Linked DNA regions of Homo sapiens: region 1 is linked to region 2. Evidence: fine-mapped expression QTL. A gene starts in region 2. The other region holds a variant in brackets. All regions are shown on one strand. Distances are between the middles of the regions.

Region 1 (5,000 bases), 260 kb after region 2:
TGGTATCCCTCTCACACCTGTGCTGCCTACCTCCCTGCCCTCACAGGTGTATTGGGACCAAATGTGAAATCCATTGCAAGAATGAAAGGAGCATCTGCCACAGTACTTCCATTCGGAGCTAGAAATAATTCTCTTTGTTTGTGGATCAAGAGCACCTCAAATTAATTTGGCATAAGAATCTAATTTTTGAAATCAAGTTGTCCCCCCACTGACAAAGTTAGCGCCATAAGCAAATGGTTTCACAGCATTTTAAGAGCCTCCAGCTACATTGGGGCTCCACTGCCCTAATAGGAAGTGGTAGGGAGCTGGGCGTGGGAGTCTGCAATGTACCTTTCACGGATATTTCTTTCACCTGGCAGACAGCCTAATGCTTAGCTGTCTGACCCATGACCAGGGGGTCCTTCACATGGGAAATTTGTTTATATTGGCGGATCCCCTTGTGGCTCTTGTCCAATCCATGTCCAGTTTATGCCTGCCTGACCATCACTCTGAGCTGGGAGCTCAGCCCAGTACCTGGAGAAAACCCAGCCTGGAGCAGCCCCTGGTTCTTCAGATGGAAGGTGCAAATTCAGTATACCACCACAACAGGAAACACATTCAAATATTTTTACTTACAGATCCTGAGCAGGGAGAATGCAATGAGTTGGGAGGGTAGTGCTCTGTCCCTGGGTCACGACAGGTAGGAATGAAGAGTGAGGCAGAGAGAAAGAGAAGTGCATAGAAGTGCATGGCAACCGGCAGTATATATAAGAGATATATATAAGAAAGTGTGTGTGTGTGTATATATATATATATATATATATATATATATATATATATATATATATGAAAGTGTGTATATATAAAAGAAAGTAGGATGTGTATATATATATATAAAAGAAAGTATATACAAGAAATATATTTCTCATATTTAATATAAGATATATCTTATGTTAATATATAAGTATATATAAGAAAGTAGGATGTGGGTCACTTTAGGTTTTCAGCAAATGCCTGAATGGTCCCTTTAAAGGAAGTGGCAGGCAAGCAGGGAGCTCCTGCCTAGGAGAGATCCAAATTCTCTGGCTACTGGCTTGAGTCATTTGGGTGTGGTATAGAACTGGAAACTGTATCCAGGGTAACTGAGCCCTGCTTCTGGTATGAATAAAGTTAAACCTATATTCAAAATGGATGCCCAAGCAACAGAAAATTAGAATTCCCTACACCTGATTGTAGGCTTCTCACCGAATGTCATAGCAGGCCTTAAATCAACTTCATACGCATTTATGACACCATTTTATGTACAGAGTAGCGAGTTCTCCTGCCCCCAATTTACAGATGAAGGTGGCAAGTTCTGGAAGGTTTAAGTGATTTGCCAAGATCAACTCTTTCAGCCGTGTCTTTCTGGAACAAGCAAAACTCTGAGCAAAGGACAAACCCAGGACCAGGCAGAGCAGCTGACTCACAGGCTGTGCCTTGTTTCTGTCTGAATTATTTCTTGGCAGAAAATGCTGTTTTGCTATCAGGACAGTCAAGTGTAGTTAGAACAAGCTCATGGAACAAAGCAGTTTAATTAAGGAAAAAAAAATTACTTGGGTTACAGTGCTATTCTCTTCAATCCAAGATGGAAATTAATTTATAATAACCTTATCTTTTATTCATAGCATGCTGCATATTTCAGAGTATGTCGGCATCCTTGTATTTCTCAGTTGAATGTGAAATAATTGTGTGTTTCTAATGGGCTGCGAGTCAGTTAAAGTGCTGAAAGAACATAGCTGAGTCTTGGCTAACCATTCAGAGAAGTCTGAAGCCACTGAGGAGTAGCTTTGGTTTCCTTTTGATGAGTCATGATATTTAAAATTCAGAGGGCTGCTGCAGGCTTCAAAGCAGCCCTTTCAAACCGATCGCTCCACAACCTAACTCCATCAGTGGCAGAGGACAAAGAAAGCCCATTCATGTTCCCCTAACCACCTCCTTCTCTTTTCCCAGACCAACCTGACAGAGCTGAAGTCATTTGGCTCTCCGCCTCTGGCCGTCAGCAATGTCAGCGCTGCGGTGATGGTACTGATGGCTCCCAGGGGTAGGGTGCCCAAGGACCGGAGCTGGAAGGCTGCTAAGGTCACCATGGCCAAAGTGGATGGCTTCCTGGACTCGCTAATAAACTTCAACAAAGAGAACATTCACGAGAACTGCCTCAAAGCCATCAGGCCGTATCTGCAAGACCC[C/G]GAGTTCAATCCTGAGTTTGTGGCCACCAAATCCTATGCGGCTGCAGGCCTCTGCTCCTGGGTCATCAATATTGTGAGATTTTATGAGGTGTTCTGTGATGTGGAACCCAAGCGCCAGGCACTGAACAAAGCCACCGCGGACCTCACAGCTGCCCAGGAGAAGCTGGCTGCCATCAAAGCCAAGATCGCTGTGAGTGACCCCAGAGCCCCTCACCCTGCTAGTCCGCCTCCAATACAAACAACGCTCTTCAGACACCATCTAACACCTAACGTTACGGTTTTTAAAGAGAAGCAGGAAAACCACATTTTCATGCAAAATCTCATTTTTCAGTAGAGGCAACTTTTTACATTTCTTTCTCAAACACTGTATAGGCCAAACAAGACAATTCCACTGGACCACTGGTTTACAAGCTGTGGTGCGAAAAGGTTTTCTCCTTTTCTGAACAAAAGGTTAAAATTTTGAGACTTTTTCTCTTTCTCCTTGGAAATGTGGATTTTAGCCACCTTACCCTTTTTACCTGTTCCCTTCAGTTCTAGCCAACTATCTGCCTGTCTCACTTTCAGTAGCATGGATGTGTGGAAATGTGTCAGCTATCTGCATTGTTTTGTGGAAGTTCGTTAAAGCAAGTTATACACTGTGACTTAGTGGGTGGCCCCTAGTCCATAAATATAAAACTGTGAGGGTCATTAGCTTTTATAAACTCATGTAGATATTGTTATTATGTCTGCTTCACCCAGGATTTGGAGATGGGGATGGTGATCTTGGATTCACACCTATTTGGGAGATTTTCCTTGTCAACCTGAAATAATTGAAAGGATCAGAATTCATTTTTTTTTTTAATCTGTAGAGGCAGGGTCTCCCTATGTTGCCCAGGTTGGTCTTGAACTCCCGGGCTCAAGTGATCCTCCCACCTCAGCCTCCCAAAGTGCTGGGATTACAGGTATGAGCCACTGAGCCCAGCCCAGAATCCAGCTTCAAGAGTTGATTTAAGTGAAAAACTGGCAATGAACTCCAAAGAGATAGAGTGAGTGCTCCAAAGTAAAACGTTAAGGTGTTACTTATATAGGCAGAAAACAAAGAAATTTTCTATAATAGGCTGGTTTATGAGTTACAACAATTTAATTAATTACAGTTTTCTGTACAGCTTGTTTCACTTCCTTTCCAAAGAGTGTATTTAACCTTCCATCTTAGATAATGTGGAGTCTTTGTGTGAGAAAGGTGAAAGAGAGGTTAATCTATAACAAAGATCAGCAATGAAGCTGGAAGGAGTCTTCCCTGGTGCCCTTTAGTCATTTGCAAAGTTTTACAAGACAATGTAGGTAAGGAAAAAGGCCAATCTATAATCAGAGAAATAAAGGTTACAACTGCCTAGGTTATAGCTGCCTGTCCTGTGACTCGAGACCTATAATCACATTACCTTAAGGCTCAAAATATTTTAAAGTTCCAACAGCTTAGATCTTGAATTACTTACTTTCATATGCTTGAACTTCACCTTGCCCATAAAAATGCATATTAACAAAGTAACAGGTAGAAATCAGAATCCTGGAAGATAGCATAGCAACTAAGACTCCATCCTTCCACATAGCTTAGTTCCAATCCAAGCTGTAATATTTACTGATCGTGTGACCTTTAGAAAGGTTTCCAAAATGCCCAAACCTTAGCTTCCTGAAGTAGAATAGACACAGTAATAGTACCTGCTTCATGGGACTATTATGAGAATTAAAGGATGTGATGTGTATAAAGCATGAGACTAGAGCCCAGCCCATGATGAAGGGAGCAGCAGGAGCTGCCCCCCTGCTGTGTGACTATAACTGCTCAACCACTACTGTGTGAGCGTGACTATAACTGCTCAACTGCTACTGCCCCATTTGACAGCATGTGCCATCTACCACATGCACATCCAACCTCTTGCATGGACTCAATCACGGCTGTGATCAAGTTCAATCCAAAAAATTTTCTGGATCTTTAATTTCTGTATGTGCATTCTAGGCAAATAAGATTCTTGCTACAAATTTGTCATGATGATAAGGAGGATTTTACAAGTTATGAAAGGTAGGATTGTAGACATGCTGTATGCCACGTGACATGGGTTTATTGATTGTTAGATTAAAATCTATGGAAAAAGGCTCTAGATCAAAGATCCTTGAGACCAATCTCTCTATTTAAAAAGATACTTTGGGCCGGGTGCAGTGGCTCATGCCTGTAATCCCAGCACTTTGGGAGGTCAAGGCAGGAGGATCATGAGGCCGGGAGATCGAGACCATCCAGGCCACCATGGTGAAACCCCGTCTTTACTAAAAATACAAAAAAAAAAAAATTAGCCGGGCGTGGTGGTGGCCACCTGTAGTCCCAGCTACTTAGGAGGCTGAGGCAGGAGAATGAAGTGAACCTGGGAGGCAGAGCTTGCAGTAAGCCAAGATCAGGCCACTGCACTCCAGCCTGGGCAACACAGCGAGACCCTGTCTCAGAAAAAAAAAAAGAACTTTGGCAAAGCAACTCACCTCCTCTCAATATGCTTGTTTTATAATGCACATGTTCATGGACTAGTTTACTTAAAATAGATGATAATCACCATAACAATTGCTCCCTTCAAAGAACATCACATGCAAGACACCGTCACATCCCCATTCCTGAATTTATTTTTATTTTTTATTTTTAGAGAAGGGGTCTTGCTATGTTGCCCAGGCTGGTCTTGAACTCTTGGCCTCAAGTGAACGTTTTGCTTTGGCCTCCCAAAGAGCTAGGATTACAAGCAGACTACAGGCATGAGCCACCATGTCCAGCCCATATTCCTG
Region 2 (5,444 bases):
AGATTCAGTATCTATTAGCAGCATAAAAGATTTTCAATGTAACATTTGTCAAGGAAGAAAAGAAAGAGCTGTTAGATTCTGTAAATATAATGTCAACTGCTAATTTATGAATGGTTTTGAAAGGCTTTAACTTTCATATTACTTGCTTGTGGGAACAAATTTCTCATCACGAGCGACTATCCAGAATTTAAAGAGATCATGACCAAAAGTCTCAAACAGGAATTGTGCATAGTCATTTAAAACAAAAAATATGATTACTACAAATATTACGCTCATGGGACTGAGTTCAAGTTTCCAATTTAAAAAATGGAAATTATTTTAGCTGAACATCTTATGCAAATTCATTCTTTCCCTTACTTTTTGTGGTAGCCTGCCTCCAAGATGGTACCCAGTGATTCTTGTCTCCTGGTATTCACATCCTCATGTAATTCCCTCTCATATTGAATAGGGAAGACTTCTGTAACTAATAAGATAATTGCAGAAATGACAGTGTGTGATTTCCAAGGCTAGTCATAAGAGACACTGTAGGCTTCTGCCTTGCTCTCTCTTAGATCACTTCTTCCGGGGGAAGACAGTCACAGCATTACAAAGACACTCAGATACCCAATGGGGGCTCCACATGCTAAGAAGTTGAAGTCTACTGCCAAGAGCCAGCACTAACCAACTAGCCATGTGAGTAAGCCATCTTGGAAGTGTCTCCTCCAGCCCCAGTCAAGCCTTCAGATGATGTAGCCCCTGATGACATCTTGCCTGCAACATCATGAGAAACCTTGTGCAATAACTACGAGCTAAGCAGCTCCTAAATTCCTGACCCCCCCATAAACTGTGTGAGATAAATGTCTATTGCTATTTTAAGCTGATAAGTTTGGGGGTAATTTGTTATACAGTGATAGATAACTAATATATTTTGGGGATATTTTTGTCATAATTATACAATATTTTAAAATGTCAGTTGTTTTCAATAATCCCATATCAATGCCTCCCACCAATCACCTTCTAAAATGCAGATAAGGTATCTTTTTGGAGAGAAAATTAAAAACTGGGATTGCTAATATTCAGGAGCCTTCACCTTACACAGAAATCTTTAAGTCATATTCACAGACTCCTTTGTTCCTATTTTTATGTATGTTGGGGCAAGGGGACATAGGAGATTAACGGCATAATAGAGCCACAGTGCGGTGGCAGAAATTTTATTTCAAGGGTTTACTGAAAGTTAATGGTCCTGAAGTCACTCTGTATACGAAACATGAGCATAGTTGACACATTTGAAGTCCCTAAGCACTAAAACAATAACGATGCCTTCCTATGTGCAAAGATAAACAAAAAACGATATGTGTAAGAAGCCCCTGACATTACTATTTTTCCCTGATGCTTCTTCTTGAAATGTCAGTTACCAAATTCATCCTAAAGATTGTTTTAGTTTCCCACTTTTTCCCTTTCCTCATAGTTGGTTGATTATTGTTTAATCCAGCAATGATGAAACACCCTTTACAAACATAAAGATTCATTTCTAACATGAACATTTTTTATTACAGCAACTCCTTTGCTCCAGTTATTATGAAATCAATCATTTTACTTCCCAACCACTGGTGTTTTCCCGAGGGGCTCTTGTTAGCCAAGCTACCATTGATAAGTGCTTATTCTGTTAATATTCCTTTGAAACCCATTATAAACATTCCTTTTACCCAGAAACTCAGCAGTCCCTGGGAGGTGACTAAAGGGAGGATGGCAGGGCAGAGGGGAGCTCATTCAGTCCTGCAGACCTCATGCTGCCCAAGTTGTTTGTCCATTTTTTCAGCACCCATGCACTGTCACCTTACATGCATGCAAAGGGCCAAGCTGTTTATCCTGACCATGGAGAAGGACTAAGCAGGTAACAAATGCTAATTTCTGAGGTCAGGCAAGGCACTTTATATTATCCCTTTTTGAAGCCAATATCCAGGTATAGGGCAGGATGGGAAGGTTCTGAGCATCCTGCATATTTACAAGTACTTTGCTACATTTAGTAAGAACTGATTAGTGGTCATACCCATGGAAGTCAAAAACTCTAGCATGGTGGCTCATCCTTATAATCCCAGCACTTTGGGAGGCTGAGGCAGAAGGATCAGTTGAGTCCAGGACTTCAAGACCAGTTTGGACAACACAGCGAGACCTCATCTCTACAAAAAATTTTTAAAATTAGCTGGATGTGGTGGCGCCTGTATTCCCAGCTCCTAGGGAATCTGAGACCAGAGGATCAGTTGAGCCCAGGGATTTGAGGCTGCGGTGAACTATGATCCGGCCACTGCACTCCAGTCTGGGCAACAGAGTAAGACTCTGTCTCAAAAACAAGCCTCTTACAGTTTGGTTACATTTTTAGAAGATTAAGCACATGCCTTAAAAAACATGGGCAAAGAAAGGCACGGAAGAAAACTTAAAAAAACTTGATATTAAAATTTTGAAGCTGAGCTGTTCGATATAACTACAGTCACATGTGACTATTTAATTTTAAGTGAAAATTAAGTAAAATTAAAAATTTCCTCAGTGGGACGAGCATATTTCACCTCCTTTATAGGCCATGCGTGGCTAGAACAGATGGAAAACATTTCCATCATCGCAGAAAGTTCTACTGGACAGCACTGTTCTGAAGTGTTTAATTTGCCATCATGGAAAAGAAATAAAATTCACTGAATGTCCTTAAATCTGTTTTATGATTTGGCATTGTGTTTAAGTCTGGATTGCACATTTAGGATAGAGGTAAGAGGACCACACTATTTTCAGTGTCTGGAGACCTCTAAAGACTCTAATTCGACCTTGGCCAAAACGATCCTTAACAGCATTTATATGCTTGATCTCCTCTCCACGCAGCCCATCAATAAGCCATTGCGCTCCACGGTCACACTTCAGCACTCCCAATACACCAGGCAGACACTGAGTACGAGTCTCGGCTGGTGTCCTAGCAACAGCGACGCGACCCCGCCCCTTCCCGCGTACACCTCCTACCTTATTAGCCTGGAAGGGGCGGGACCAGGGGTCCGTGCCCAATAGGAAGGGAGCAGAGGAGTGAGTCCTGGCCGCGTCCCCGTCGCTAGGGAAACCGATGCAGCTGGAGGCCGCGCGCGATGCGGCTCGCGGAGGAGCGGGCCGCGCTCGCGGCGGAGAACGCGGATGGGGAACCCGGCGCCGACCGACGACTGCGACTCCTGGGGACCTACGTGGCCATGAGCCTGCGGCCGGCTGCGGGCGCCTGGGAGCGTTGCGCGGGGAGTGCTGAGGCGGAGCAGCTGCTCCAGGCCTTCCTGGGCCGCGATGCTGCCGAGGGGCCGCGGCCGCTGCTGGTGGTGCGGCCCGGGCCCAGGGGCCTGGCAATACGCCCCGGGCTGGAGGTGGGACCTGAGTCGGGCCTGGCTGGCGCTAAGGCGCTTTTTTTCCTTCGCACCGGGCCCGAGCCTCCAGGGCCCGACAGCTTCCGCGGCGCAGTGGTCTGCGGGGACCTGCCCGCGGCACCTCTGGAGCACCTAGCCGCGCTGTTCTCGGAGGTGAGGGTGGGTTAGTGTCCCCGCGCGGCTAAAGCTGGGTGGGGGAGGGGAGGAGGAGCCTTAAGGGACGGAGGCGGGGCCAGAGGGGGCGGGGCGAAGCTGCAGGGGAGGTCCAAGAGGCGGAGTGATAGGCAGAGGGGCGAGGCTGTGGAGGGAGCACAACCAGGAGGGAAGTTCCTGAAGTCAGGAAGAAAATGGGATGGGGTTAGGGGCGGAGTCGGGTGGGTCCGGAGGGAGGGATCTGGGTGGAGGCCAGGCCAGAATGAGAATGGGAAGGAGCTGAGGCTTGGGTCAGTCCGGGTCTGGGTTCCAGCCAAAGTCAGGGGAAGACCATAATCTGAAGAGTGCCTAGGTTCTGACTACTTTCAAAATCAGCCTCTCGTAATCCCTCCTGTAAATTGGAAAGATCTGAAGAAGATGGGAAGTGGACAAGACGGCATTTCTGATGGATCAGTGGGGTGGAAGGAGGTGGATGGCTATAAACAGTGCCTACTTCTGGAGAGCAGTTAAATGGGAGGGGGAGGTGGGTAGTGATTTGCTTTTGATTTTCATCTCATTCATTCATTACCAACCATTTAGCAAAGGTCAGCCCTGTGCCAGCATAAGAAGTTGGGCTCCCATTTGGAAATGCCCAGCAGGCCTTTGGAGGAGTCTGCCTGAAGCTCAGGGAGGAAGGTGGAGATGTGGGTCATGAGTGCTTTAGTGGCACCACAGCAGAAGCTTCGAGAATGCAGGAGATTTCAGGGAAGTGCTCCAGAGAGATTCCTGGGCCCCTTAGACCTTTCTGGAATGGGAGTAAACTGCCCTGCAAGTCAGGCTGTGTGCTTATGGAGGCTTGATGCCCTGGACCCTGCAGGTTGTGAAATAAGGATGGGCAGAATACTGGCTGTATGATGGTTCAGGTGATAGGTGCTATAGGGAATACCAAAGAACTATTCCCACCCATGAAATGCTTACTCCAAGGAGCTGAAACGTATGTAATAATTCATATATTCAAAATGTTTCAAACTTTTAAGACTGGGGTGAGGGTAAAGCTTACCTAAAAGTTGGCCCCACTGCTGGATGCAAGTCCTGGAGTCTCCCTGCTATGTCAAGTGTAAGCCCTTTAGATGGTGTATCAGGAGGCTGTGGGGAGGTGAAAATTCCAGGGAAAGGGTTGGATAGATAGAGGAGGACACAGAGGGCCCAGGAAGCTAGATCTCTTAGATATGGAGGTATTTCAATATTTTAACAAACAGAATGGTCTTGCAACTGTGCATTGTCTGAAAGCCATCCCGCTGAAGCCTGAACTTAGATCAGCTTCTCTAATGAATGTTGACGATAGAAAGTACTTTTGGCTTCAGAGGAGAAAGACAGGCCTGTGATCTGAGAAGCATGCTTAACATAAGTGTTGAATTGTCTCCTGAACAATTAGAAGAATTTGTATAAGTAGAGAGCAAGGTAACTTTCAAGATACTGAGAGCAGACTGATCAAAGGTTCAGAGACAGGATTTAACCTAGTGTATGTGGGAGACAGAAGGCCCATCTCAGAGTTGTGTCATGGCCAAGCAAAGTAGTCCAGCAAGAAAAATAATTTTAAAATAATGAAAATTCTCGAATGTTTAAGAATTTTCATTGGTGCATTGAAAGAGATTGGAGACAAACAATGTTCATCAACAGGGGACTGGGTGACTGAATTATGGGCCATCTATACAGTGAAATACTTTGCAACTATTAAAAAGAATGACTGATATGGAATATTCCTTTTTTTGAGGCAGGGTCTTGCTATGTTGACCAGGCTGGTTTCAAACTCCTAGACTCAAGTGATCCTCCTGCCTTGGCCTCCCAAAGTGCTGGGATTACAGGTGTGAGCCACCATGTCCAACCGGAGTTATTCCTTAGGGTAATTTTTTCCTTGTGGCAAAAAAAACACATGACGTAAAATTC

Alleles and levels. Alleles are on the strand shown, and positions count from the first base shown. SD is a standard deviation of normalised expression in the study named.
As copies of G replace C in region 1, the expression in substantia nigra of the gene that starts at base 3,073 in region 2 goes up (moderate effect, 0.46 SD a copy in GTEx).

What was found. PIP is the estimated chance that this variant, and not a neighbour inherited with it, causes the effect. A credible set is the group of variants that fine-mapping cannot tell apart.
Region 1: its variant is the best candidate, but not a certain one, in a credible set for the expression of DNAH9 in substantia nigra (GTEx, PIP 0.58).

Annotation. Positions count from the first base shown.
Region 1 is chr17:11,852,035-11,857,034 of GRCh38, forward strand. It overlaps DNAH9 (dynein axonemal heavy chain 9), which reads left to right. Exons shown (of 69, transcript NM_001372.4): 50 at 1,969-2,394. Among named protein-coding and RNA genes, the nearest start is that of ZNF18, 140 kb to the right of the region's middle. The variant C/G (reference allele first, on the strand shown) is at 2,205.
Region 2 is chr17:11,595,398-11,600,841 of GRCh38, forward strand. It overlaps DNAH9 (dynein axonemal heavy chain 9), which reads left to right and starts at 3,073. Exons shown (of 69, transcript NM_001372.4): 1 at 3,073-3,518. The coding sequence starts at 3,102.